Homo sapiens: one gene and its partners. The protein of the gene in region 1 interacts with the protein of each later gene in a pairwise test. Each region holds a gene or a part of one and is shown in the gene's direction. Other genes may lie near its edges. The genes, in order: CEP76, DZIP1L, ZNF653, CCDC92, CUTC, TOB2 and RBM41.

What was found.
Region 2: the proteins of CEP76 (region 1) and DZIP1L interact in binary tests that used the Homo sapiens proteins (3 or more experiments, as listed by UniProt).
Region 3: the proteins of CEP76 (region 1) and ZNF653 interact in binary tests that used the Homo sapiens proteins (3 or more experiments, as listed by UniProt).
Region 4: the proteins of CEP76 (region 1) and CCDC92 interact in binary tests that used the Homo sapiens proteins (3 or more experiments, as listed by UniProt).
Region 5: the proteins of CEP76 (region 1) and CUTC interact in binary tests that used the Homo sapiens proteins (3 or more experiments, as listed by UniProt).
Region 6: the proteins of CEP76 (region 1) and TOB2 interact in binary tests that used the Homo sapiens proteins (3 or more experiments, as listed by UniProt).
Region 7: the proteins of CEP76 (region 1) and RBM41 interact in binary tests that used the Homo sapiens proteins (3 or more experiments, as listed by UniProt).

What each region holds. Positions count from the first base shown.
Region 1 is NC_000018.10:12,678,724-12,682,223, reverse strand, and holds part of CEP76 (centrosomal protein of 76 kDa), read left to right. Parts: intron 1-1,395; coding exon 1,396-1,562; intron 1,563-3,500. UniProt on the Homo sapiens protein: Centrosomal protein involved in regulation of centriole duplication. Required to limit centriole duplication to once per cell cycle by preventing centriole reduplication.
Region 2 is NC_000003.12:138,067,109-138,070,608, reverse strand, and holds part of DZIP1L (cilium assembly protein DZIP1L), read left to right. Parts: intron 1-12; coding exon of another isoform or gene 13-44; exon of another isoform or gene 45-1,444; coding exon of another isoform or gene 1,445-1,449; exon of another isoform or gene 1,450-2,235; intron 2,236-2,241; coding exon 2,242-2,458; intron 2,459-2,908; coding exon 2,909-3,078; intron 3,079-3,500. UniProt on the Homo sapiens protein: Involved in primary cilium formation. Probably acts as a transition zone protein required for localization of PKD1/PC1 and PKD2/PC2 to the ciliary membrane.
Region 3 is NC_000019.10:11,499,340-11,502,839, reverse strand, and holds part of ZNF653 (zinc finger protein 653), read left to right. Parts: intron 1-3,500. UniProt on the Homo sapiens protein: Transcriptional repressor. May repress NR5A1, PPARG, NR1H3, NR4A2, ESR1 and NR3C1 transcriptional activity.
Region 4 is NC_000012.12:123,970,032-123,973,958, reverse strand, and holds the start of CCDC92 (coiled-coil domain-containing protein 92), read left to right. Parts: upstream 1-1,127; 5' UTR 1,128-1,430; exon of another isoform or gene 1,431-2,219; intron 2,220-2,539; exon of another isoform or gene 2,540-3,927.
Region 5 is NC_000010.11:99,749,234-99,752,733, forward strand, and holds part of CUTC (copper homeostasis protein cutC homolog), read left to right. Parts: intron 1-1,135; coding exon 1,136-1,163; intron 1,164-3,500. UniProt on the Homo sapiens protein: May play a role in copper homeostasis. Can bind one Cu(1+) per subunit.
Region 6 is NC_000022.11:41,432,994-41,436,801, reverse strand, and holds the end of TOB2 (protein Tob2), read left to right. Parts: coding exon 1-491; 3' UTR 492-3,308; downstream 3,309-3,808. UniProt on the Homo sapiens protein: Anti-proliferative protein inhibits cell cycle progression from the G0/G1 to S phases.
Region 7 is NC_000023.11:107,070,323-107,073,822, reverse strand, and holds part of RBM41 (RNA-binding protein 41), read left to right. Parts: intron 1-3,397; coding exon of another isoform or gene 3,398-3,500. UniProt on the Homo sapiens protein: May bind RNA.

The sequences.
Region 1 (3,500 bases):
CACTGCACTCCAGCCTGGGTGTCAGAACTAGACCCTATCTCAAAAGAGAGGAAAAAAAAAAGAAATTTCTTCATTCGGACACTCAACTCAAATAGTTATTTTTGCTTTCGCGTGTAGTCTTCCTACACTTAAATACGAAATTGTAACCATAGTGTTTAATATCTTGGTAATTTTTTTCACAGAACACAGTATCAGATATTTTCTTTTCTTTTTTTCTTTTTTTTTTTAGAGACAGAGTCTCACTCTGTTGTCCAGGCTGGAGTGCAGTGGCACGATCTCAGCTCACTGCAATCTCTGCCTCCCAGGTTCAAGCGATTCTCCTGCCTCAGCCTCCTGAGTAGCTGGGATTACAGGCACACACCACCATACCCAGCTAATATTTTCTATTTTTTTATAGGTCTTTATAACTTTTTAAAATTGAAAGTAATATAACCAAAGAAAATCTGGAAAAAGAGTGGAAAATTATATATAACCTCCCCAGTAATAACCATTGTTGGCATTTTGTTGTTGTTCTTGCCAGTCATTTTTCTTATGTATGTATTTTCTTGAAATTATCACATATAGATACTATCAGTCATTGGTTGAGTGTTTTCCATTTATTTGCATTTCTTGCTGTATGACTTGTTTGCTTGTTTGTTCATGTACTTCAGCTATTAATCTATTAAAATATTCCAGGCTGGGCACAGGAGCTCATGCCTGTAATCCCAACACTTTGGGAGGCTGAGGCAGGAGGATCACTTGAGCCCAGGAGTTCAAGAGCAGCCTGGGTAACACAGTAAGACCCCTGTTTATACAAAAAAAATTTTAAAATTAGCTAGGTGTCATGGTGCACACCTTTAGTCCCAGCTACTTGGGAGGCTGAGATGGGGAAATCACTTAAGCCCAGGAGGTCAAGGCTGCTATGAATCATGTCACCAGCCTGGGTGACAGAGGAAGACCCTGTCTCAAAAAAAAAAAAAAAAAAAAATGTTCTACTTTTCTTTCTGTGTTGTGTGAGTTCTTTATAAACATTTTTTTTTTTTTTTGGAAACAGAGTCTTACTCTGTTGCTGAGGCTGGAATGCAGTGGCGCGATTGTAGCTCACTGCAACCTCCGCCTCCCAAGTTCACGTGATTCTCTTGCCTCGCCTCCTGAGTAGCTGGGACTAATGGTGTGTGCTACCACACCCGGCTAATTTTTGTATTTTTAGTAGAGACAGAGTTTCCTTATGTTGGCCAGGCTGGTCTTGAACTCCTGACGTCATGTGATCCACCCGCCTTGGCCTCCCAAAGTGTTGGGATTACAGGCGTGAGCCACTGTGCCCAGCCAATAAATTTTTATTATAATTTAGTATTTAAGTATGTAATGAGGAAATAATATGGAAGAATGAATACTTCATTTTAATTTATCTTCCAGGGTGACTGTGAAGATCACGCTAACCTTCTGTGCAGCCTTCTTCTTGGATATGGATTAGAAGCCTTTGTTTGTGTTGGGACCAAGGCAAAAGGAGTACCTCATGCATGGGTTATGACTTGTGGAACTGATGGGGCCATCACTTTTTGGGAGAGTTTAACAGGACACAGGTTAGTTTACTAAGTTTATAAGGATATTAAAATGAAGTTATAAGTTTTTTTTTTTTTTTTTTTTTGAGATGGAGTCTCGCTCTGTCGCCCAGGCTGGAGTGCACTGGCACAATCTCAGCTCACTGCAACCTCCACCTCCCAGGTTCAAGCCGATTCTCCTGTCTCAGCCTCCCAAGTAGCTGGGATTACAGGCATGTGCCACCGCACCTGGCTGATTTTTGTATTTTTAGTAGAGACAAGTTTTCACCATGTTAGCCAGGCTGGTCTCGAACTCCTGACCTTAGGTGATCCACCTACCTCAGCCTCCCAAAGTGCTGGGATTACAGGCGTGAGCCACTGTGTCCGGCTTAAGTTATAAGTATTTTAAATTATAAGGGTTTTTTGTCCATATTGATGGTACTTGAAGGTACGTGTTGATGATTTTAGTTAGAGCCTTTTCAGTGATTATGTAAAAAAGTACTTCAATTATGGCAGCCAAGTAAATGAACTCTAAGAAAACTTTTACCTCAAATATTCTTTACCAACATGATGTTGGTAAACAGTAAATTATGTTTACTAGTTTTGTATGATTAGCATATTTTTTTTTCAGTTTTCTCTTTTTTTTTTTTTGCAGTGTCTCATTCTGTTGCTCAGGCTGGAGTGCAGTGGCACAGTCACAGCCCACTGCAGCCTCCCCCTCCTGGGTTCTGGTGGTCCTCCTACCTCAGCCTCTTGCGTAGCTGGGACTGCAGGTGTGCACAGCCATGCCTAGCTAATTTTTTTGTAGGGATGAGCTTTTGCTGTGTTGTCTAGGCTGGTCTTGAACTCCTGGGCTCAAGCAGTCTACCTGCCACGGCCTTCCAAAGTGCTGAGATTATAGGCATGAGCCACCACACCTGGCTGGCATATGTTTTTTTCTGATGATCATACCTAAGTCTGAAAATAAGTTCAAGTTGTAAATGATGATTTCTTTTTAAAATTTGATGTGGTTACCATCTCCACGTTGGCAAATCCACTGGACACATTTTTTAAAGTACTTTAGCCTGTCATTAGATTTTGAAACAGCTGAGTACTTCTGTTGTAGGACTTCTTCCTTAGTTCAGCTAAGAGCTGAGTCCTTGTCACATGGCCACGAAAAATTAGGCTCGCAGGCAATTTGAAGGGGGAGAAAAATGGAATTTATTGAACAAAAAGGAAAAACACTGGGAAACGGACGCTCCACAAAGCCAGAGTGCCTGCTAGTGTGCTTCGTGCCTGCTAGTGTGCTTCCTGCCTGCTAGTGTGCTTCCTGCCTCGCAGATTGAATTCCAGCTTCCACTCAGGAAGAGGAGGGGCCAAGCTCCTCCCCACTGCAAATTGCTCGAACTTCTGTGGCTTCTCCCCAGTGTGCACTCCTCCCAGTGCACAGGCTGGTTGGAGTTTCTCTGGGGACCCCTTTCCACCTGGCTGTCTCACTTCTTTCTTCATGGAACATTCTCTTTCCTTAGCTTCTTTTTTATCATTGTCTTTCAATATTTATTATTCCTCTCTGGCTGTTCTTAGTTTTTCCTTCATCTTGTCTTTAAATGTGTGTGTTCTAGAGGCCCAGCCCTGGGCCCTCTTTTCATTCCCGAGTCCTCTTTCTCCCTGGTTGATAATCATGCCTAATAATGTTTTGGTTAGTTGTGCCTAAAAATGCATAACCAAATTATTTTAATTATGTTATCTGAGGCAAACTTTTTTTATTTTTATTTTTTTTTCTTGGAGATGGAGTTTCGCCCTTGTTGCTCAGGCTGGACGGCTCACTGCAGCCTCCGCCTCCCGGGTTCAAGCAATTCTCCTGGCTTAGCCTCCCGAGTAGCTGGGACTACAGGCACGTGCTCCCATGCCCAGCTAATTTTTGTATTTTTAGCAGAGACGGGGTTTCACCATGTTGGTCAGGTTAGTCTCGAACTCTTGACCTCAGGTGATCCCCCTGCC
Region 2 (3,500 bases), on another chromosome or scaffold:
CATGTGAATTAGAAGAAAATAAGACTAACATAGCAATCCTGTGAGCTCATGGAAATTATTACTTGGACAAGTATCAAGCAGGTATTTTGTGCTTAAAAGCATTGTCATTTTGGCATGAAAATATGGTAAAAAAATGTATTGATGACCTGGGAAACTATAATATTTAGTTTAAACTTCTGGCCTTAAAATCTCTAAGGAAAGGACGGTTTTTATCTTGCATAGAAATCTCAGACAGAAGGGTATTTGTCCTGGTTGCCAATCTGCCTTTTATGCTCCAATTTAAACGTATATCCTTTTGCTCATTCAGTCAAATGTTCATTCATTCATTTGCCCACTCATTCATTTAGTACAGTACTTGCTGAGGTTGACTCTGTGCCAGGGCCTTCCACCTCACCTGGGAAATCAGCCAGGACCAGGTGATGTGATGGAGCCAAGCATGGGGGTGGTGGGAGCTCAGAGGAGGGAGGGGACAGGGACTTGGGGAGGATGAATGGAAAAACCCTCGGAATGCTGGCTTCCAAGAGAAAGCAAAGGTATCTTGCTCCTTCTAGGTGCTACGCCCCACCCACTCCCACACACCTTTGTTCCTGTAGTAAAAAAGCCAGGAGGGAGAGCCCCCTTCGCAGCCTTCCCTTTCCCTGGCCCTGGGGTTCTGCCTTCTCTGGAGATGTTACTGAGTTGTGAGATGAGCGCTGTGTTTTTGTGGCATTTTGTAGACCTTTCCTTCCAGCTCTGCACCTTTATTCTTTTCCTGGGTCCCACAAGTGCTGTCTTAATGCTCACCTCCCATTTCTGCTTGGACCCTGCCTCTTCTGTGGCCTGGGCAAGGCTGTGGGAAGTAGCGGTGAGGGCCCAAGATTAGGGCAGACAGACAACCTGGGTTTGTATTCACCACTTTCTTCCGTGGAGCTGAGGGCAAGCCTCTGTAGGGAAAATGATAGCCTCTGAAGATGCTCGGGGGCCAAGTGGTTGTATGTAAAGTGCTTTTCTTAGTATCTGGTACACAGTCATGGGAAGCTATTGTTATTTTCCCCCAGCAGGCTTGTCTTTGTCTTCCCCTTCTCTTCAGTTCACTCTTTCCTGGAAGCTCCACTTCTGAGTAGACACATTCACTGAGAGCAGTGCATAGCTGGCCCTTGAACAATGCAGGGGTCAGGGGCGCAAACCCCCCATGCAGTTGAAAATTTGCGTGTAACTTTTGACTGCCCCAAAACTTAACTACTCATAGCCTACTGTTGACCAGAAGTCTTACCGACAATATGGACTATTAACACACATTTTGTATGTTATATGAATTATAAGCTGTATTATTACAATAAAGTAAGCTAGAGAAAAGAACATGTTATTAAGAAAATCACAAGGAAGAGCAAATATGTTTACTATTCATTAAGGGGAAGTGGATCATCATAAAGGACTTCATCCTTGTTATCTTTGTGTTGAGTAGGCTGAAGAGGAGGAGGAAGAGGAGGGGTTGCTCTTGCTGTCTCACGGGTGGCAGAGTCGGAAGAAAATCCACGTATAAGTGGACCCATGGCTGTTCAACCCCACGTTGTTTCGGGGTCAACTGTATTTCAAACATTTTCTGATCTTGAATTACTGTAAGAAACTCATTTTACATTGTGACCCAATCCACACATGTCTGACTCCCTGTGATGCACTCTCTCTCTTCTCTTCCCATAAAAACTTGCTGATCCGGGACCGCTCTTGTGGCTATAGGTCTTGATGCAATTTGGAAAACAGAGGGGCTGTGTCCAATTGCCTGCCTTGGTACTGCCTTGCCCCAGACTGCATTTGGGAGGAGGTTTGAGTGGATCTTGATGGTTCATGCAGTCCTGCGGCGACCTCTGGTGGCAGTGGGGTCTTCCTGCAGGACTGCCTGCAGTGCAGCGGCTGTAGCGTGGGTTGGGGAGAGGGTAGCAGCCTTGGTGAAGTCCATCTAGGACTACTGAGCCCCTCTTCAGGCCCGCGGACTCCTGCTGGTCTTCAGTAATGACAACACGACCCTGGAGCACCCAGCTGCTCTCCTGGTCTCTGATGAAACTGTGGAACTGTGGTCCTAGCCTCGAATCTGGCCAGCAGAACACCTGATTTGGCAACAGTCATGAAATCTGCTGTGGTTATTACAGCACGGAGAGGGAGTAATTGTTCATTTCCAGGGTGTTGGAGCCACTTTCTCCCTCCTCTTAGGCTTGAGATCCAGCATGGGTGTACTCCAAAAATCATTCCTTTCTGTGTTTCCAGTCAAAAGCCAGCAGAGCACACTGGTCACCAGAGAGGCCCAGCCAAAGACCAGGACCCTGCAGGTGGCCTTGCCATCCACACCGGCAGAGCCACCCCCACCAACTCGTCAGAGCCATGGCAGCCATGGCTCCAGCCTGACCCAGGTGTCCGCCCCCGCTCCACGCCCCGGACTGCATGGACCCTCCAGCACCCCTCCTTCCTCGGGGCCCGGGATGAGGTGAGCCCCAGACTCTGCCCTCTCACCCCACCTGCAGTGGTGGCTCCTGGATTCAGGCAGTCCTGTTCTGGGCTCCCTCCAGGCTTCTGCAGATAGGAGGGGGGCAGACACATGTGAATAGAAGGTGCCTCAGGTGGGGTCCAGTCTGAGCTCTGGACTTGAGAACCTGTGCTCCCAGCCAAGACAAACCCACCCTCCCCTTACCCATGTCCTCCCCCAAACCCGTTCCCCCTCCAGAGGGGCTGGATCCTCAGATGGGCAGGGCTCTACTAAGGGAGATACTGGTGTGGCTGCTGCACTCCAGGGGTCTCCTGGCTGTCTTCTGGGCCTGAGGGAGGGAGCAGGGCTGGCCCTGAGCAAACCAAACCAGCTTGAAGCGTGGTGAAGTTTGGCTTTTGAAGTTTTCTTTCTGGCCCATGCATCCCTCATTTCTTCTCCTCCTCGTGGCAGCACGCCCCCGTTCAGTTCTGAAGAGGACTCAGAGGGAGACCGTGTGCAGCGTGTGTCTCTACAGCCCCCAAAAGTTCCTTCCAGGATGGTGCCCCGGCCCAAGGATGACTGGGACTGGTCTGACACAGAGACCTCGGAGGAGAATGCCCAGCCCCCTGGCCAGGGCTCAGGTGAGCTGGCACCTTTGGGTGAGTGGGCTGGGACCACCGGTGTAGCCCTTCTCCAGCCCAGATTTCTCAAGGCTCCAGAAACACCCTTTAGCTTCCTTTAGGCTTTCTTATTTGACATCTCTTTCTCTATTTGGCTTGGAAAGGATGGTCCTCCTTCGCCTCAGATATTTTTTTGTGGGATAGCAGAGATATCAGGAGAAAGCTAGAGTTTGAGCAAGGTTTAGTTTTACCCCTTGTTTTGTCATTAAATTGTTAACTGTGGGAGGTTGAAGGGAGCCATTCACCCCTTTTCTCCTCCATGTTCTTTCCAGTAGAGAGTAAACACTGTGGCCAGCTACGGGAGATCAAAGCCTCGCTCTAGTAGTGGTGACAGGGCCCAGGAATGCCTGAGGCATAGGCTTCCTGTTAGGGCTGGATTAGAG
Region 3 (3,500 bases), on another chromosome or scaffold:
CTGGTCTCGAACTCCTGACCTCAAGAGGTCTGCCTGCCTCGGCCTCCCAAAGTGCTGGGATTACAGGTGTGAGCCACTGCGCCCGGCGGGGTTGCAGATTTAAATGTAAAGATGAAACCATACCCGGGCCTGGGCCTGGCCTTTTATTTCCTTATTTATTTGTTTATTTATTTTTGAGATGCAGTCTTGCTATATTGCCCAGGCTGGTCTTGAACTCCTGGACTCAAGAGATCCTCCCACCTCAGCCTCCAGAGTAGCTGGGACTACAAGTCACACACAGCCTGGTTTGTATTTTAGAAGAAACTGTCTCTAGGATGTGTGTGGCTTGAAGAATGGATGGGGTACACATTGTGATACAAGGTTGGCCAAGAGTTAACAATTGTTAAAGCTGATGATGAGTCCAAGGAGGTTCATGACTCTTGTCAACAATTAAAATAAAAAAAAGGAAGACCAGGCATGGTAGCTCACGCCTGTAATCCCAGCACTTTGGGAGGCCAAGGCAGGTGGATCTCTTGAGGTCAGGAATTTGAGACCAGCCTGACCAATAGGCCAAAACCCTGTCTCTACTAAAAATGCAAAAATTAGCCGGGCATGGTGGCGCACGCCTGTAGTCGCAGCTGCTTGGGAGGCTGAGGCAGGAGAATCACTGGAACCCGGGAGGTGGAGGTTGCAGTGAGCCGAGATCGCGCCACTGTACTCCAGCCTGGGCAATAGAGCAAGACTGTCTCAAAAAGTAAAATAAAAATAGGCCAGGCGCGATGGCTCACGCCTATAATCCCAGCACTTTGGGAGGCCAAGGTGAGCAAATCACGAAGTAAGGAGTTCGAGACCAGCCTGGCCAGCATATTGAAACCCCGTCTCTACTAAAAATACAAAAATTAGCTGGGCGTGGTGGCACACGCCTATAGTCCCAGCTACGCAGGAGGCTGAGGCAGGAGAATCACTTGAACCCAGGAGGCAGAGTTTGCAGTGAGCCAAGATCGTGCCACCGCACTCCAGCCTGGGCAACAGAGCGAGGCTCTATCTCAAAAGAAAAAAAAAAGTTACTAAAGGGATACTTTTAGACAGAAAACACAGGCCTGAGTGTGGCGGTTGCTCTCCTTGGTAAGGGAGGTGAGGGAGAAGCAGCAGCCCGGTGCCAGTGGAGCACTGGGCAGTGGCAGCACCCAGGAGGCCAAAGGAAGTGTCTGCCATGTCCAGTGCTGTTGGGCCGAGTGAAGCCGTCACTGGTGACTGTGATGGGAGAGTGTGTGACGTGATGGAGCAAAGCTCTGACTGGAGGAGTTCCAGTGAGATGGAGGAGAGGACATGGAGACAGCGAGTGTAGACAACTGTGACAAAACGGGGAAATGAAGAAGGAGGCTGGGTGCTAGTGGCTCACACCTGTAATCCCAGCACTTTGGGAGGCTGAAGCAGAAGGATCTCTTGAGCCCAGGAGTTTGAGACCAGCTTGGGCAACATGGCGAAACTCGATCTCTACAAAAAGTACAAAAGTTAGCCGGGTGTGGTGGTGCATGCCTGTGGTCCCAGCTACTCAGGAGGCTGAGGCAAGAGGATCGGTTGAGCCCTGGAGGTCGAAGCTTCAGTGAGCTGTGATGGCGCCACTGCACTCCAGCTGGGGCAACACCACGAGAGCCTGTCTCAAAAAGAAAAAAAAAAAAAAAGATATGGGGAAGGGGCTGGTGGGGAAGGTGGGTATCAAAATGATTTTAACCCAAGATGGGAGAAATCATGGCATATTTAGATGCTGGTGGGAATGACTGAAGACTGAAAGGAAATGGCGGGAAACAGCCAAGCCAGGGCCTGAGTAGCCCCGGAGCTGTGGTCCTTGATGCCAGTGGCCTCTGCTGGGAGTCACAGAGAAGTGGCAGAAGTTGGAGAAGTGGACAGGAGAGGGAAGGCAGTTTGAGGGAGAAAGCCCTGTGTGGGGGTTGGAAAGTGGCGCTCACCAGGTTACATATGACCTTGTTTGGTCCCCATGGTGACCCTGTGTCAGAAGCACTACTACTATTTCCACTTCACAGACGGAGACTGAGGCTCAGAGGGGACAAGACCTGCTTGAGGTCACACAGGCAGTTGAGAGCAGAGCTGAGTCTTGAACTTGGGTCTGGCTGATACCCAAGACTGTCCCCACTGCAATGTGACACTCCCAGCCTCCAGCGGTGAGTGGATGGAGGTGGCTGTGGACATCAGGACTTGGGTTTGGGGCAGGGCATGGTGGCTTACACTTGTAATCCCAGCACTTTGGGAGGCTGAGGCAGGCAGATCACTTGAGGTCAGGAGTTCGAGACCAGTCTGGCCAACATAGCGAAATCCTGTCTCTACTAAAAATAGAAAAATTAGCTGGGCTGATGGCAGGCATCTATAATCCCAGCTACTCAGGAGGCTGAGGCAGAAGAATCGCTTGAACCCAGGAGGCAGAGGTTGCAGTGAACTGAGATAGTGCTACTCCACTCCAACCTGGGTGACAGAGCCAGACTTGGGTCTTGGGTTGGGTGAAGGTCTCTACAGCCAGTGTGGTGCTTTGCAGGGGAGGGTGGAGCCATGGGAAGGGATAGAGTCACATGGAATGGGACCTGGAGTAGCAGAGCCAGAGGCAGGGGCAGAGCCTGGGGCAGGAAAGATGGAAGATCCCCAAGGTGCAGTCCTGGGAACCAGACGGGTGTGGGACTGAGAATTGTTACAGGGCTGGGCAGGAGTCAGACGGGGTGGACAGTTTTGCTGATAAGAGACACTAGACTGGCTGTCAGGATGTTTGTGGCAAGAGCAGGTCTGGGCCACAGCAGGGAGGCCAGGGGGCCCAGGCTCCACGATGATACTGATAATCATAACGATCATTGTACCATTTGCTTATTGATGATTAAGTGACAGGGCTGTACCATGACGAAGATCGTTTTTTGTTTGTTTTTGTTTGTTTCTTTGTTTTTGAGACACGGTTTTACTCTGTTGCCCAGGTTGGAGTGCAGTGGTGTGATCATAGCTCACTGCAGCCTTGACCTCCCCAGGCTCAGGTGATCCTCCCACCTTAACCTCCTGAGTAGCTGGGACTACAGGTGCATGCCACCCCGCCTGGGTAATTTCTGTATTTTTTGTGGAGATGGGGTTTCACTGTGTTTCCCAGGCTGGTCTCCAACTTCTGGCCTCAAGCGATGCACCCGTCTTAACCTCCTAACGTGCTGAGATTACAGGAATGAGCCACGGAGCCTGGCCTTTTTTTTTTTTTTTTTTAATTGTATAAATAGAGGTGGGATCTTGCTATGTTGCCCAGGCTGGTCTTGAACCCCTGGCTTCAAGCAGTCCTCCTGCCTCAGCCTCCCAAAGTGCTAGAATTACAGGTGTGAGACACCACACCCAGACAGTACCCACTGTCTTGCTGGCTGTGGGCCAAGACCACTCTCAGCCTCTCAAGTAGCTGGGACTACAGGCTTGAGCCACTGTGCCCTACAAGATATGTTCCCGTTTGATTAACTCACAGTCACCTAACCAAGGCTTGACATCCA
Region 4 (3,927 bases), on another chromosome or scaffold:
CTGCGCTGGGTGCGCGAGGGGTTCCTCATCACCTGAGCGGGATGCTCGCCTCCTCTGCCGGACGCAGGGCGCCCTGAAAAACACACAGCACCCCATGCAGCCGGCTCCTCCGCAGCCGCCCGGCTCCCCGGTCCCCTGGCGCGGCCATGACCGCCTCTCCCGGGACCCGCCTGGAAGGGCTCCAAGACGCGGCTCCACGGGCGACGAGGGCGGCAGCGCTCCCCCTTCCCTCGGCTCCAACAACAATGGAGCCTGGCTCGGGAGTCCGGCTCCCGAGGGGCCTCGCCCGGCCTCGCCCTGCCCGCTGCCCAGCCCTCGCTCGCACCGGCCGCCATCTGCGCCCCCCGGCCCCGCTCCCCCGCACTGCGGGCCCGCGGCCGACCGCCCGAGGCCCGAGGGGCGGCTTCTCAGCCCGGGACCCGCCAGGCTGCGCGGAGCCGCTCTGACCTTCCCCGCCATCCCGAGGCCCATCCTCCGGGATGGGTTGTTTTTCTTTTCTTTAAGCCACTCCACCTCCTTCCCACCCCCAGCCCGCTCCCTGGCCCCCGGCCCCCGCCTCCCTCCGGGAAAGAAAGAAAGACTGCAGCCCGGCCGCCGAGAACTCACTCCAAGTGAGGGGAGTCAGCGCCCCAGGCCGCGGGCGCCGCGCACCCACCTCCCTCTCCTCAGGGACACCTCACAGGTGCGCCTCCGAGCCGCGCGCGCGCGCGCTCCGCACACCCAGACGCCTCCGGGGGACAGCGCGCGTGCGCACGCACGAGGCCGGGGAAGCCCCGGGGGAGCGGGGGCCGCACGCATGCGCGGCCACCCGGCCCGCGCCCCCACCGCCCGCCTCCGCCCCCGCCCCCCAGCCCCGGCCCGGTCGGGCCCGGCCATCCCCCACCCCAGCGCCCGGCGCGCGCGCTCCCGCTCGCCTCCCTCGCTCCTCCCCGCGCCCCCCCCTCCCTCGGGCCGCGTTACCCAGGGCAACCGCAGTGCGGCCGCACCTGAGCTGTGCGCCTGCGTCCCGCGGGCCCGACCCTCCCTTCCCCTCGGCCTTCGCCCCTGCCCCGCCACAGCCGGGCGGAAGGGGGCGTAGCCCCGCCTCGCCAAGTGAATATCGGCCCGCCGCCCCCGCCCAGCCCGGCAGACACAGGCCCGCCGCCGCGCCGGCGCCTAGCCCGCCGGGTCAGCGCGGCCAGGCCTCGCCGCCGGCCCCGCTCCCAGGGTGCACCGCGGCTAGCGCTGGGGTGGGAGCGGGCGAGATGCGCCGGGCGGGCGGTGCCCACTGACCTCCCTCGGCGGCCCGGCCCGGGCAGCGCCCGAGCCCAGGCAGCCCCGCCCGCCGCGCCCCGCCCAGCCCATGGGCCACGGGCCCCCACCGCCGCCCGCCGGGAGGACCGAGCCTAAGAGGGCAGCCGCCTGAAGGAACGCGACGGCGGCGCCCGCAGGTGAGGCGGGGCCCGGGGTGTGTCGAGTCCGGCCCCGCTCACCTGGCAGCGCCGGCGGGGGCGGAGGGGCCGGGCAGGGGCGGAGGGGCCGGGCAGGGACGGGAGTTCGTGGCGAAGACTTTAAAAACCCTCCCCGCCGGGAGACGGGGGACGGGGTCCTCCTGCCCCACCTCCGGGGCTTGGGAGCCACGTTAGCTCCCCCAGGGGCAGGGGTGGCCCCGGGCGAAGGCAACTCGGGAGACGGCGGAGTCGGGGAAAGAGGGTCCCTGAGGCTCGGCGACCCCCGCGCCCGCCCCCGCGGGGTCTGCCGGCCCTTTCTGGGGAGGGGGCTCCCCGGCCCGGGCTCCAGTCCAGGGTGCGGACCGGCCGCGGCGCGCGCCCACCCCAGTGCCAAGGGGGAGGAGAGGCCGGTCCCGGGGCGCTCCTGTCTGCCCCGGGGTGGGATCGCAGGGCGAGGGATCCGCATTGCAGGTGCACCAGGAGCGCCCCGGGGCCTAGCCCGGCTTTGTCTGGGATGCTGTGGGGAGGAGGCCGTCTGAATCCACATCGCCTTTTTAAATGCTTGTTACCACCCGGGGAACCTTAGAGACCCTCCCTGACAAGTTGTATCGCCTCCCGTCCTGGTAGCCTTTCCGTAAGTACACTACCTTGCCAGCCCCTTCCTGAAGCTTTGATGCGGCTTTAGTTTACTCTGAGTAACGATTTGCCTGTGATTCGTGAAACGGAGCAGAATGCACAAACGCAGCAGAGCTCCAGGCTTGGCTACTGGGCTGCCGTCTGCTACGGCGAGTGAGTTTCTCTAACTTAGGTTTTCATGCTGACCTGTATTGTTTCATTTCAAGTTTTGGTATTTAGCAGTACGATCTAGTCCACTAAGGAAAATTAGGCTGCCAGAGAGAAAATATAACCGCGCTCTGTAGCTTAGGTTGCAGTAGTCGGTTTTATAACAAAATGCAAGCTACCACGCTGTAATACTTTAACATATTACGCAGTTCCAGAAACCTGTAAGAGTATTAAAACTAGGATTGCCATTTTAAAACTTTTACGTTTGAAATTTATTTAAAGAGCATTGGTATTGATAAAACGACTTTTCTTTTTTTTTTTTTTTGCTCATCAAGAATTCCCATGCATTTTCTCGCTATTGCATTGTAAGGAAAAAGATGCTAACGTTTAAAGTGGCTTTTACCTCCAAAGATGTTTTGAAATGTATGTAATTCTTTTGGCTAACTGTTCATCTTATGTGAAATATGCTTGGAAGAAGGCTTTAAAACTCGTGATTATATATACGGGTATGCGTACATATCCATACACACCACTGAAAAATCTTAAAATAGTTTTGTTACTCCTCTGCGTATTATAATTACTCAGTAAATTTAGTTTAGGTACATTTAAGATCTAAAGTACAGGACAATTATTTGTGTGAGATTTTTACTGTGACACATTTTAAATACATCGGTCTAACAAATAGGGTTTTTTTGAAATTAGATATTTTTATTAACTCTTTAAAAAACGAATCATTCATCTTGGGTTTATAACTCTTTCATCTGCCATGTTGGATAAATTGCAAAATTGGATAAATTGATCTCAACTTATCCAATTATCTTTGGATAAATTGATCTCAACATAATTACCTAATTGGTAGGATGCCTTTGCAACGATACTAACGTTAATAAAATGTTGATGCTTTTAAAAAATACTTATGTTAAAAAAGCATTTTCTCGTATTTCTGGCAAGAAAAGTCATGGAACTTTTTTCCTTCTATCTGGAACAAGGTCAGCCATAAATAGTTTCTAATACATAGTGGGCACACATTTGGTAACTAAGATTAATTATATCTACTGAATTTACTGAATTCCATGTCCTTCAAGGGCAGTGACTAGGTGACTTTGTATCTTCACACACCAATGTTGCAGTAAATGTTTGAGTCAGATTGAAGTTTCATCCCGGCTAGGTAGGTGCTAACTTAATGACACCAGTTTCCACATCTTCAGCTTTGATGTTTCAACCTGCAGAAGGATTTGGGCACGGAAGTGGCTGTGTCCTAATTGTCTTCAAATATTTGAAGGTCTGTCATGCAGCAAGGGATTTCATTTATTTTGAGTAATTATTGAGTACAGAAAAACAGATTTCACTTCTATATGAAGGCAAAAGTTGTTTATGGTGAGAACTAGCGGTGGAAAGAAGGGGCTGCTCCTTCCCTAGGGGCTTTTGGGATCAGCTGGTTCCCCACTTGGCGTGAATGGCTATTAGGAGGTATCACAGAGGTATAGGAGGGTCTTTCTGAGAGGGACTCCTGGGTATTCCGATGGCAACTATATTCGAGGACTTCTGTACTTCCCTTTTAGCACTGTGGCTTTTGTTTTTTGTTTTCTTATGCTGGCTTCTAGAGTTGTGGACGTAGCAACATCCGCAGACACCTACATGAACCCTAGGAAGATTTTTTAGTAGATTAAAGACCCACCTGCTATCGAAGATGATTCTTAGTCGTGCTTTGCAT
Region 5 (3,500 bases), on another chromosome or scaffold:
GGTCTGTGTTTAAACCCTGGCTTTGACCCTTACTAATAGTGACCATGGATACATTACCTAGCCATCCTAAACCTCAGCTTTGCTCTTCTGCAAAGTTAGGATAATAATAGCACCTACCTCCTAGAATAGTTGTGAGGGATTTCTTCAGGTTATAGCACTTAGTAATTGTTCTATATTATTAAATCTGACATTTAGTGACTGCTCTATATTATTAAATCACTTTGATAGCCTTAGATAAGCATATACTTCTAAATAATCTTGTATGGAAGGCGAAAAGAAATGGTAGAATTCATTTCTTTAAAAATATTATTTCTCTATGTTTTGGAAAGCCTTGATTTGGAAGAAACAGGCAAATATGACTTTTTTCCATTCTGAAGTGATTTCAGCTTTTTAGATAGTCAATGTTTTGTTTTATGGATGCTTTGTTCAGGCCATTTGAGAATATGAAGCATCCTTGTTCCATTTATTTCCCTAACAATTTTTAAATTATTTGAAATAGCCACTCCCCTCTTTCACTCTCTTGTTAACTTTATTTTTTGCTTTATTTATTCACTTGCTTTATTTTTTCTTTGTTATACTTATTGCTACCTGGAATTTTATTGTATAAATATCCCTGTGCATTGTCTCGTCTTTCTTGAATGTGTAAGCTCCATGAGAGCAGGAACTTTCTCTTACTCACCATGTCAGGGAGGAAAAACTTTTCTTCTATCCTCAGGGTTTGTTATTGGGGGCCTGCAAATTAAACTGACTAAAGACAGATTAGCAGGAGTAAAAAGAGATTTTATCACATAAGTACATATATATGTAAGTACATACAGAAGTTCACAAAGAAATATGACTTAGAATTGGGGGCTTATATACCATCTTAATAGGTGAAGGGGAAGGAGAAAATGGCACTTATTGGGGGGGAAAATGACTTTTTGGAAAGATAATTTTCTAGAGACAAATTTACTATGCTGGACATCTTACTTGTCCAAGATCCCAAAGAAATAGAGAAGATCTAGTAAAAATTAAACATTAATAGTAATTTTTAAAATTTAATATATTCTGACTTATGTTTCTATTCTCACTGCCTTATTATCCCATTCAAGAGAAAGATATTAAAATTCACTTGTTTTTTTTTTTCTTTTTTCAGGCAAAAGGCAGGATTGTGGTAATGCCAGGTATTTATTTATCTATCAATTCACTAGCATAACACTGAACTATAGTGGAGGAAGAGCAAAGGAGGCAGGAAAATGTGAGAGAGAGTATTAGTACATTACATATTAGTACATGATCTTTAAAGAGAAGAATATATAGTTTGATTAAAATGTTTAAAACTGGGAGATCTGTGCTAGAATTTAAAAGTTTAGATAAGAAGGAAAATATTGTAATAGGCATTAGCTCAAAGAGGAGCAAATAAGGAAGCAGATAGAGATTGAGGTTTCTCCATATTTGCTCTCCCATTATATAGAACTTTATGAATTCAGATGTTCATCTCTGGTGAGGCACATCAAATTTGATGCTAATCATATTTTGTTTAGGACAAATGTCCTAATAAACAGGGTTTAAGCAAAGGTTTAGGCAACATCCTTGGGTAAAATATAATACTGTCTCAGTTCCTGAAAATCTCTGATTGCCAAATTATTTCTTGTAACCAGAATTTAATCATATGATCCTGATGATAACCATAAGATCAGTTAAGTTCATAATGGCTAACTAGAAATGAACAGTTGGAGCAGTTTTTAAAGAATTAGATAATACAACATAGAAGAGTGAGACAAATGTAAAGACAATCTTAATTTTTTTAATTAAGTTTCTCAAACATATAAAAAAGTAGAAAATAGCATAATGAATACTCATATGCTCATTCCCTAGATTTAACATTTTGCCAAATTTGTCTCATCTTTTTTCTATCCTGAGGTATTTTATTAAAGTTAAATTGAAAGCATCATGGCATTTTATCTTTATTTATCTCTAAAAAGGGTGGGATGTTACCATAATGACAATTCCATTATCACATCTATCACAATAAACATTTAATACTCAACTTTCTCCAATTGTCCCCACAATGGTTTTTATAGCTGATATGTTCAAACTAGGATCCAGTCAAGGAACAAGCATTACATTTTTGGTTATCTTTTGTTTGTTTGTTTGTTTTTAGAGATGAGGTCTTGCTATATTGGCCAGGCTGGACTTGAACTCTTAGCCTCAAGCGATCCTCCTGCCTCAGCCACCCAAGTAGCTGGGACTACAGTTGCACGCTGCCATGCCCAGTTCTATTATCTTTTAAAATATCTTTAATATAGATGTTTTTCCTTTTATTTTTCTTGCTTTAAAAAAAAGTTACATTATTAAGTTTGGGCTGGGCCCAGTGGCTCACGCCTGTAATCCCAGCACTTTGGGAGTCTGAGGCAGCCAGATCACCTGAGGTCAAGAGTTCGAGACCAGCCTGGCCAACATGGTGAAATCCTGTCTCTACTAAAAATACAAAAATTAGCCGGCCATGGTGGCATGTGCCTGTAATCCCAGCTACTTGGGAGGCTGAGGCATGAGCATCACTTGAACCAAGGAGGCGGAGGTTGCAGTGTGCTGAGATTGCACCACTGCACTCCAGCCTGGGTGACACAGCAAGACTCCGTCTCAAAATAAAATAAAAGTTTGGATCACTTACCCTGTAAAATGTCCTACTTTCTGGATTTATCAGATTATTTCCTCATGATATTGTTTAGCTTGTTCCTCGTGCCTCTGTATATCCTATAAACTAATAGTTAAATCATGAGGTTTGAATAGACTCTGCTTAAATATTTTTGGTCAGAATACTTCATGGGTGATTCTGCATACTTACATCATATGACATCACATCAGAAGGTATTCAGTCTCTGGTCATCTCACTACTAGTGATGTCAAGACTGACCAGCGTTCAAAATAGTGACACCTAGATAAAGAGTAACTTTTAAAAAGAGGCCGTGAACCTGGGCAATATAGTAAGACACCATCTTTACCAAAACGTAAAAAAATTAGTTGGGCATGGTGGCGTGCTCCTGACGTCCCAGCTACTCTAGAGGCTGAGGTGGGAGGATTTCTTGAGCCCGAGGTCAAGGCTGCAGTGAGCTATGATCGCACCACTGCACTGCAGCCTGGGCAACAGAGTGAGACCCTGTGTCAAAAGAAAAAAAAAAAAAGGCCATATAAGGGGTATTGTCAGATATTTAGGAAGGCTTTGACCTATAACAAGCCCTTGAAACATAAGCAGAGAGAAAGTATATATTATCTGTCAAATTGTGGTCCTTTTTGGTTAATCAAGGAATGTTAAAGAGACTCTGAGTGTGATGCTTTTCCATTTAGCACTAAATATATATAGTTTTGACAAGTAATACTTAGACAATTGTTGACATTAAGAGTACCTTTGTTTAATATGCAATTGTTATCAGCTGTGTGCAAGGCATTACTTGGGATGCAAAGCTACACAAGAAACTACGTTCTCAAGAAGCTGACTCAGGTCAAAAGATGTTACATAC
Region 6 (3,808 bases), on another chromosome or scaffold:
CTGCCACCAAATTTGGCTCCACTAAGATGAAGAAGGGGGGCGGGGCAGCAAGTGGTGGGGGTGTAGCCAGCAGTGGGGCGGGTGGCCAGCAGCCACCACAGCAGCCTCGCATGGCCCGCTCACCCACCAACAGCCTGCTGAAGCACAAGAGCCTCTCTCTGTCTATGCATTCACTGAACTTCATCACGGCCAACCCGGCCCCTCAGTCCCAGCTCTCACCCAATGCCAAGGAGTTCGTGTACAACGGTGGTGGCTCACCCAGCCTCTTCTTTGATGCGGCCGATGGCCAGGGCAGCGGCACCCCAGGCCCGTTTGGAGGCAGTGGGGCTGGCACCTGCAACAGCAGCAGCTTTGACATGGCCCAGGTATTTGGAGGTGGTGCCAACAGCCTCTTCCTGGAGAAGACACCCTTTGTGGAAGGCCTCAGCTACAACCTGAACACCATGCAGTATCCCAGCCAGCAGTTCCAGCCCGTGGTGCTGGCCAACTGACCATCTACCTGCCCGTGGGGCCAGGAGCACCCAAGACCACAGAAAAGAGAAAGGAAAGGCCAAAAAAAAGAGGAAAAGAAAAATGTACAAAAAGATTTTCGATCTTCTCACTCTTACTTCTAGAAAAAAGATCCAGCCCAGGCACGGAATGGGAGGGCCCTGCAAAGCACCCAAGTGTGTTTCACTCACCCCTTACCGCTCGCCCACCGGCCTGTGATTTATTTGGTTGGTTTGGGTTTTATATTTCTTTTTCTTTTTTTTTTTTCTTACATGTAGTTTTCTATATAACATCTTTAATGAGTGGCTTCCTGTGCTAAGAATGGTCCAGATGTGAACTGCTGCTCCCTGCTCCTCCCTTCCTCCTTCACACTCCTAGTTTAGGATTGATGTGTCCAAGCTCATAGGGAAGAAAGAGCTGCAGCTGGAGCCTGACCCTCCCTGGAACAGGGAGAGGCTGGCCCGTGTCACTGCCTCTGTCACCCAGCTATCCTCGCACTCAAAGCCATCCAACCTCAGCAGGCCTTCTCGGGCCCTGCCACCTGAATAGGTCTGACCCCAGTCCCCACTCCCTTTCAGGCTGGGCCACAGGGAGTTGCTGGCTGGCCACTTGACACCCTCCCCCTGGAGCTGATGTCTGTGACTACAGGGAGATTAGCACTTCGTCTAGTGAAACTCCTTTCATCTCTGTCCTATGGCCCCACCCCACCATTCCCTCTAGGCCCAGACCATCATCATGGCCCTGGCCATTGATGTGTATGGGCTTTCTTTCCCTCATGCAGCCCCTTCTTCCCCAGGCTGGATGTTGTGGGTAGGGAGGGGTGTGTGTGTGTGTATTTGGTTTGCTGTCCTTTTTTAAAGGATTCCAAGCCATGTGAAACTTCCCTTCTGGATGTGATTCTGGGTCGCAAGTCCTTATTTATATGTGAGGCTGGGGAATGGGCTGGGGGTATTGGCAGTCCTTTTGCAGGGCAGTGTGTGTGGTGGGGTGACACCGCTGTGGCTTAGCCCAAGACACTCCCAGAGGAAAACACTGCAGAAGGAACTGGTTTGCAGACTGTGGAAGGATCTGCAGTTTTGTTTTTGACCAAAAAAATAATAATAAGTTAGCTCTGAAGGGCAGAGGGAATACCCAAGCCCCTGATGCCTATGAGAAGTCCCTGGACTTCAACCCTCCTGTTGTTTGGCCTTAGCCCAGAGGGAGCTGCTCACCTGAGCACCCTTGGGGGTGGGCAGAGAGGCAGGGTGGGATTTTAGAGTTAGTGTCTGTGCGGGGGCAGCCCTGAGCCTGGAGTTGAGACTTTGGGGTCTCTTAGTTTGGAGGTGTTGAGTGCATTTGTGCCCCTGCCTGGTTGAGAGCTTCTTGGTACCTCTTGCCACCCCTTCTCACTGCCCTGACCCAACCCCACTGGACCTTGATGCTGCGAGGAGTGGTGTCCTGACGGACTCAGCACTCCCGCCTGATGTATTGGATCATAGGAGAGCACTTGCTCTCCTGCCTCTGCCAGGAGAGGGCTTGTTCCTCCAACTCTAGGAGGCCAGGCAAGCATGGACAGGAGCCAAGGGAGCAGGGTCATTAACTTTTTCTTCTTTGCAAAGTGGGCACTTGGCATCAGGGTCCCAATCACCAGAAAGCACCAAAGCCCCTGGCACCCCACCCACTCCATCCTACCCAGGGACCCCAAGTAGGCAACTGTTATGGCAGTGGGTCCAGCCCAGGCCAGCACTGCCAGCCTCCTCTCCCTGCAGTAGGCACCAGCTCTACCTCCCCCGGCAGGCAATGTCCTGGCTTCTCAGCCCAGCACCATCTGTTCCCCTAGACTTCTCAGGGGCCAGCCCAGTCTGGGCCACCCTTTGTTTCCCTCATCCTCGGCTCCCACACAGGTGACAGACCCAGCAGATAGCTTCTCTCTGGGAAAGGTTGGATGCTGCCTTACATCCCCTTCTAGCCCTCCTCCCATCCACACACACAGGCACCCACCCACACCAGGTCGGCTTGTTTCTCACATGTAGGGAGAGAGGGGAGACCAACCCCTTTGTGTCTTTTGAAATACGAAGAAAAATGTGTGTTCAGGAGCATGACTCCAGTGCTGCGCTCTTGGGCCCAGTTCAGTCTGTCTTGTCTCAAATCTAGGCATTTTTGCTTCAATTTTATTTTTTTTAAGAATACAAAAACAGAAATCTGCACTAATTTACCTGGTTTCGTAGGAAAACTTTTTTTTATTTTTTACATTTTTTGGTGTCCGTTTGTATTGAATAATTTGCTACATTTGTAAAATGTAAGAGGTATATAATATATGTATATTTCTAACGTAAAAAACATAATTTTTTTCTTTTCAAGATTTTTTCTTAAAAAGATGAGAGAAACATATTTTTTCAGGAAAAACAAACTTTAAAAAAAAAAGAGGAGAAATAAAACCTTTTCTCCCCTTTCCCCATCCTCTATCTATCCCTCTTTCCCAGGAACAAATCAAAAGGTGGATTATCTTCTGAAGAATGGAAACTGTTAGTCCAGAATGATGTGTTTTTCTCAATGCAGTGAGTTATAGATTCTCTAGTTTTCTCCCTAGGGATGGGAAGGGGGCATTGAGGCAAGCCTGGAGAGGAGCCCGGGGAGCAGGGTCATGAACTTTTTTCTTTAGTGAAGGAGGAATACAATCAAGGGTTTTGTATTCAGAATGTTGTGCAATATTTTGGAATGGGACATTGGTGTGTTTAGAGATTTTAGTTTAAAAACAAAACAAAAAGATTGATCAAATCTGTACAGTTTCTATTGTTCCAGATTTTTTTAAGTTTGTATTAAAAGCATGATACATAATAGCCTTCTGCCTGCTCCTGGCTTGCTTGGTTTCTGGGGTCCCTTTTGGGATGGAGAGAATGGGAGTGGCCCAGCCCTTACAGACTCCAAGAAACGATTGGTCCTCCTTACAGTGACAGCCTCGGATGGACATAACTGTCCTGGTGCCCCTTCTTGACCACCTATCCATCCCATCAACACAGGATACATCATTGTGCTTGCTACCGCAGATGCTTTTCTACACTGGAAACAGGTTCCACAAAGTTAGAAACCGCTCCAGTTCCCTTAGCCAGTTGGTGGTGGCAGCAGAGCCTGGAGAACGGGGTACTTCATGGCTCTTTAGGAATTGTCTATTCCTGGGGGGAGGAGAGCGGGGACAGCCTCCAGCCTACTCTAGATCTAGTACTTGATCCTTAGTACTAGATCCTTAGATGTGGGCAAGGATGAGAACAGCTTGCCTAAGCCAGGTTCCATCCAAAAGCCCGGTGCTTGGATTCTCAACCCTTTTCTTGGGCTGGACAAT
Region 7 (3,500 bases), on another chromosome or scaffold:
ACATTGCTCTGAATAACAGGATTTCAATATTTTTATGGCTGAATAGTATTCCACTGTGTATATATACCACATCGTTGGGCACCTAGGTTAACTTCATATCTTGGCTGTTGTGAATAGTGCTGCAATAAATATGAGAATGCCATTGTCTTTTCAATATACTGATTTCCTTTCCTTTGGATAAATTCTCAGTAGTGGGATTGCTGGATCGTATGGTAGTTCTATTTGTAGTTTGTTGAGGAACCTCCGTACTGTTTCCCATAGTGGCTGTAAAAGTTTACAGTCCCACCAACAGTCTGTAATAATTTGCTTTTCTCCACATCCTCACCAGCATTTGTTAACTTTTGTCTTTCCAGTAGTAGCCATCCTAACTGGAATGAGATGATGCCTCATTGTGGTTTTGATTTGCATTTTCCTGATGATTAGTGATGTTGAGTATTTTTTCATATATTTGTTGGCAATTTGTATGTCTTCTTTAGAGAAATAGCTGTTTAGATCATTTGCCCATTTTTAAATCAGGTTGTTTGTTTTGATGCTGTTAAGATGTTGAATTCCTTGTATAGTCTGGATATTAATCCCCTGTTGGGTGAGTAGTTTGCAAATATTTTCTCCCATTCTGTAGTTCGTCTTTTCACTCTGTTGTTTCCTTTGATGTGCAGAAGATTTTAGTTTAATATAATCCCGTTTGTTTATTTTTGCTTTCGTTGCCTGTGCTTTTGAGGTCTTATTCATGAAATCTTTTCCCAGACCAGTGTCCTGAAATGTTTCCCCTATGTTTTTTCCTAGTAGTTTTTTAGTTTCCGGTCTTACGTTTAGGTCTTTGATCTGTTTTGAGTTGATTTTTGTATAGGATGAGAGATGGGGGTCTGGTTTCATTCTTCATGCATATAGGTATCCAGTTTTCTCAGCACCACTTATTGACGAGACTGTCTTTTCCCAACTGATGTTCTTGGTGTCTTTATTAAAATATTAGTTGGCTGTAGATACATGGGTCAGTTTCTGAGTTCCCTATTCTGTTCCACAGTTACATGTGTCTCTTTTTATGTCAGTACCATGCTGTTTTGGTTACTACAGTTTTGTAGTACATTTTGAAGTCTGGTAGTGCAGTTCCTCCAGCTTTGTTATTTTTGTTCAGGATTGCTGTGGCTTCAGAGTCTTTTGTGGTTTCATAAAAATTTTAAGATTTTTTTTCTTTTTCTATGAAGAGTGTCATTGGTATTTTGATAGGGATTGCATTAATTCTGTAGGTTGCTTTGGATAGTATGGTCATTTTAACAATGTTCTTTCAGTCCATGAGCATGGAATATCTTTCTGTTTGTATCCTCTAAACTTTTCTTTCATCAGTGTTTTGTAGTTTTTCTTGTAGAGGCCTTTTACCTCCTTGGTTAATTTATTTCTAGGTATTTTATTTTGCTTTTTGTAGCTATTGTAAATGAGATTGCTTTCTTGATTTCTTTTTCAGCTAGTTTGCTGTTCGTGTGTAGAAACGCTACTGATTTTTGTGTGTTGATTTTGTATCCTGCAACTGTATGGAATTTGTGTATCTGTTCTAAGGGCTTTTTGGTAGACTCTTTCAGGTTTTTTTTTAGGTTTTTCTCTATATAAGATCATGTTGTCTGCAAACAGGGACAATTTGACTTCCTCCTTTTTGCTTTGGATGCCTTTTATGTCTTTCCTTTGTCTAATTGCTCTGGCTAAGACTTTCACTACTGTGTTGAATAAGAGTGGTGAGAGTGAGCATTGTTGTCTTTTGCCAGTTCTTAGAGGAAAAGCTTTCAGCTTTTCCCCATTCTACTGATGTCTAATTTTTTGTTGTTGTTGAGTCTTTAGCGTTTTCTACATGGATGATCATTTCAACTGTGAACAGAGATAATTTTACTTCTTTCTTTCTGATTTGGATGCATTTTATTTCTGTTTCTTGCCTATTTGCTATGGCTAGAACTTCCAGTACTATGTTGAATAGAAGTGAGAGTAGGTATCCATGCCTTGTTCCTGATCTTAGAGGAAAAGCTTTCAGTTTTTTAATACTGAATATTATAGCTGTGGACTTTACATATATGGCCTTTATTATGTTGAGGTAAATTCCTTCTATTAGTAGTTGAGTGTCTTCATCATGAAACAGTGTTGAATTTTGTCAAATGCTTTGTCTGCAACTGTTGAGATAATCATGTAATTTTTATATTTTGTTCTGTTAATGTGTTGTATTACATTGATCAATTTTTGTATGTTGAATCATCCTTGCATCCCAGGGATAAATCTCCCTTAGTCAAGGTGTATGAGCTTTTTAATGTGCTGTTGAATTTGGTTTGGTAATATTTTGTTGAGGATTTTTACATCTGTTTATTAAGGATATTGGTCTGTATTTTTCTTATAATGTTTTTGTCTAGGTTGGTCTCAGGGTAATCCTGGCCTCATAGAATAGCTAGCATATAGTTGGATTTTGTTTATCCATTCAGGTACTCTGTCTCTTGGGGAGTTTATTAATATTTAATGTAATTATTGCTAGCAAAGGACTTACTATTGCCATTTGTTAATTGTTTTCTGTCTCTGTTGTAGCTCTTTTGTCTCTCCCTCTCTGCCGTCTTCCTTTGTGGTTCATTGGGTTTTTTTTTTTTTTTGTAGTGATATACTTTGATATCTTTCCCATTTTTCTCTGTTTATCTTTTATAGGTATAGGGCATGGTAAAACAATCTGTTTTAAGCTGATAACATCTTACGTTCAATCACATATAAGAGCTCATTTTTGTTCTGTTGAATTTTTTTTTTTTTTTGAGACAGGGTCTCACTCTGTTGCCCAGGCTGGAGTGTGGTGGTGTAGTGTGATCATAGTTCACTACAGCCTCAAACTCCTGAGCTCCAGTAATCCTCCTGCCTCAGCCTCCCAAATAGCTGGGACTTGTAAAATTGGCCAGTTGTGGTGGTGCATGCTGTTTGCTCACAAGTAGCACATGCCACCCTGTCTCTTTTGCAGAGACAGGGTCTCACTGTGTTGCCCAGACTGATCTCAAACTCCTGGACTCAAGCGATCCTCTCATCTCAGCCTCCCAAAGCACTGGGATTACAGGAGTGAGCCACCGCACCTACCCTCCCGTGCCGCCTAATAGGTAGAATAATTTCTCTTATTTTCCTGAGGATATTAGTTATGGTTTGTTGAAGTTTTTTCCTATTTCCTTTCTTTTCTTTATGTTTGTTGTGTTCTCTCTTTCACATTAGAGGAGTTCCTAAGATGCCTGATAATCCATGCCCAACTTTATAAGTAGGAACTAAAAAGCAGATTGGAATCTCTGAGCACACAAATGGCACTTGTTGACTTTGAGCTTCACTTTAAAGTGGTCTGGCTGGGTCATTTGTTAGAGAAATTCCTCATCCCAAGTCAGTATTTTTATATCTTTCCTCCTAGGACTTACCAGTTTTCCCAGAGAAGACTTCCAAAATCTTTCTTACGAGGGTACTACCAGCGTTCTAGGAGCCAAATGGCAGAAAAGGACTGGGAGGACCTCAAC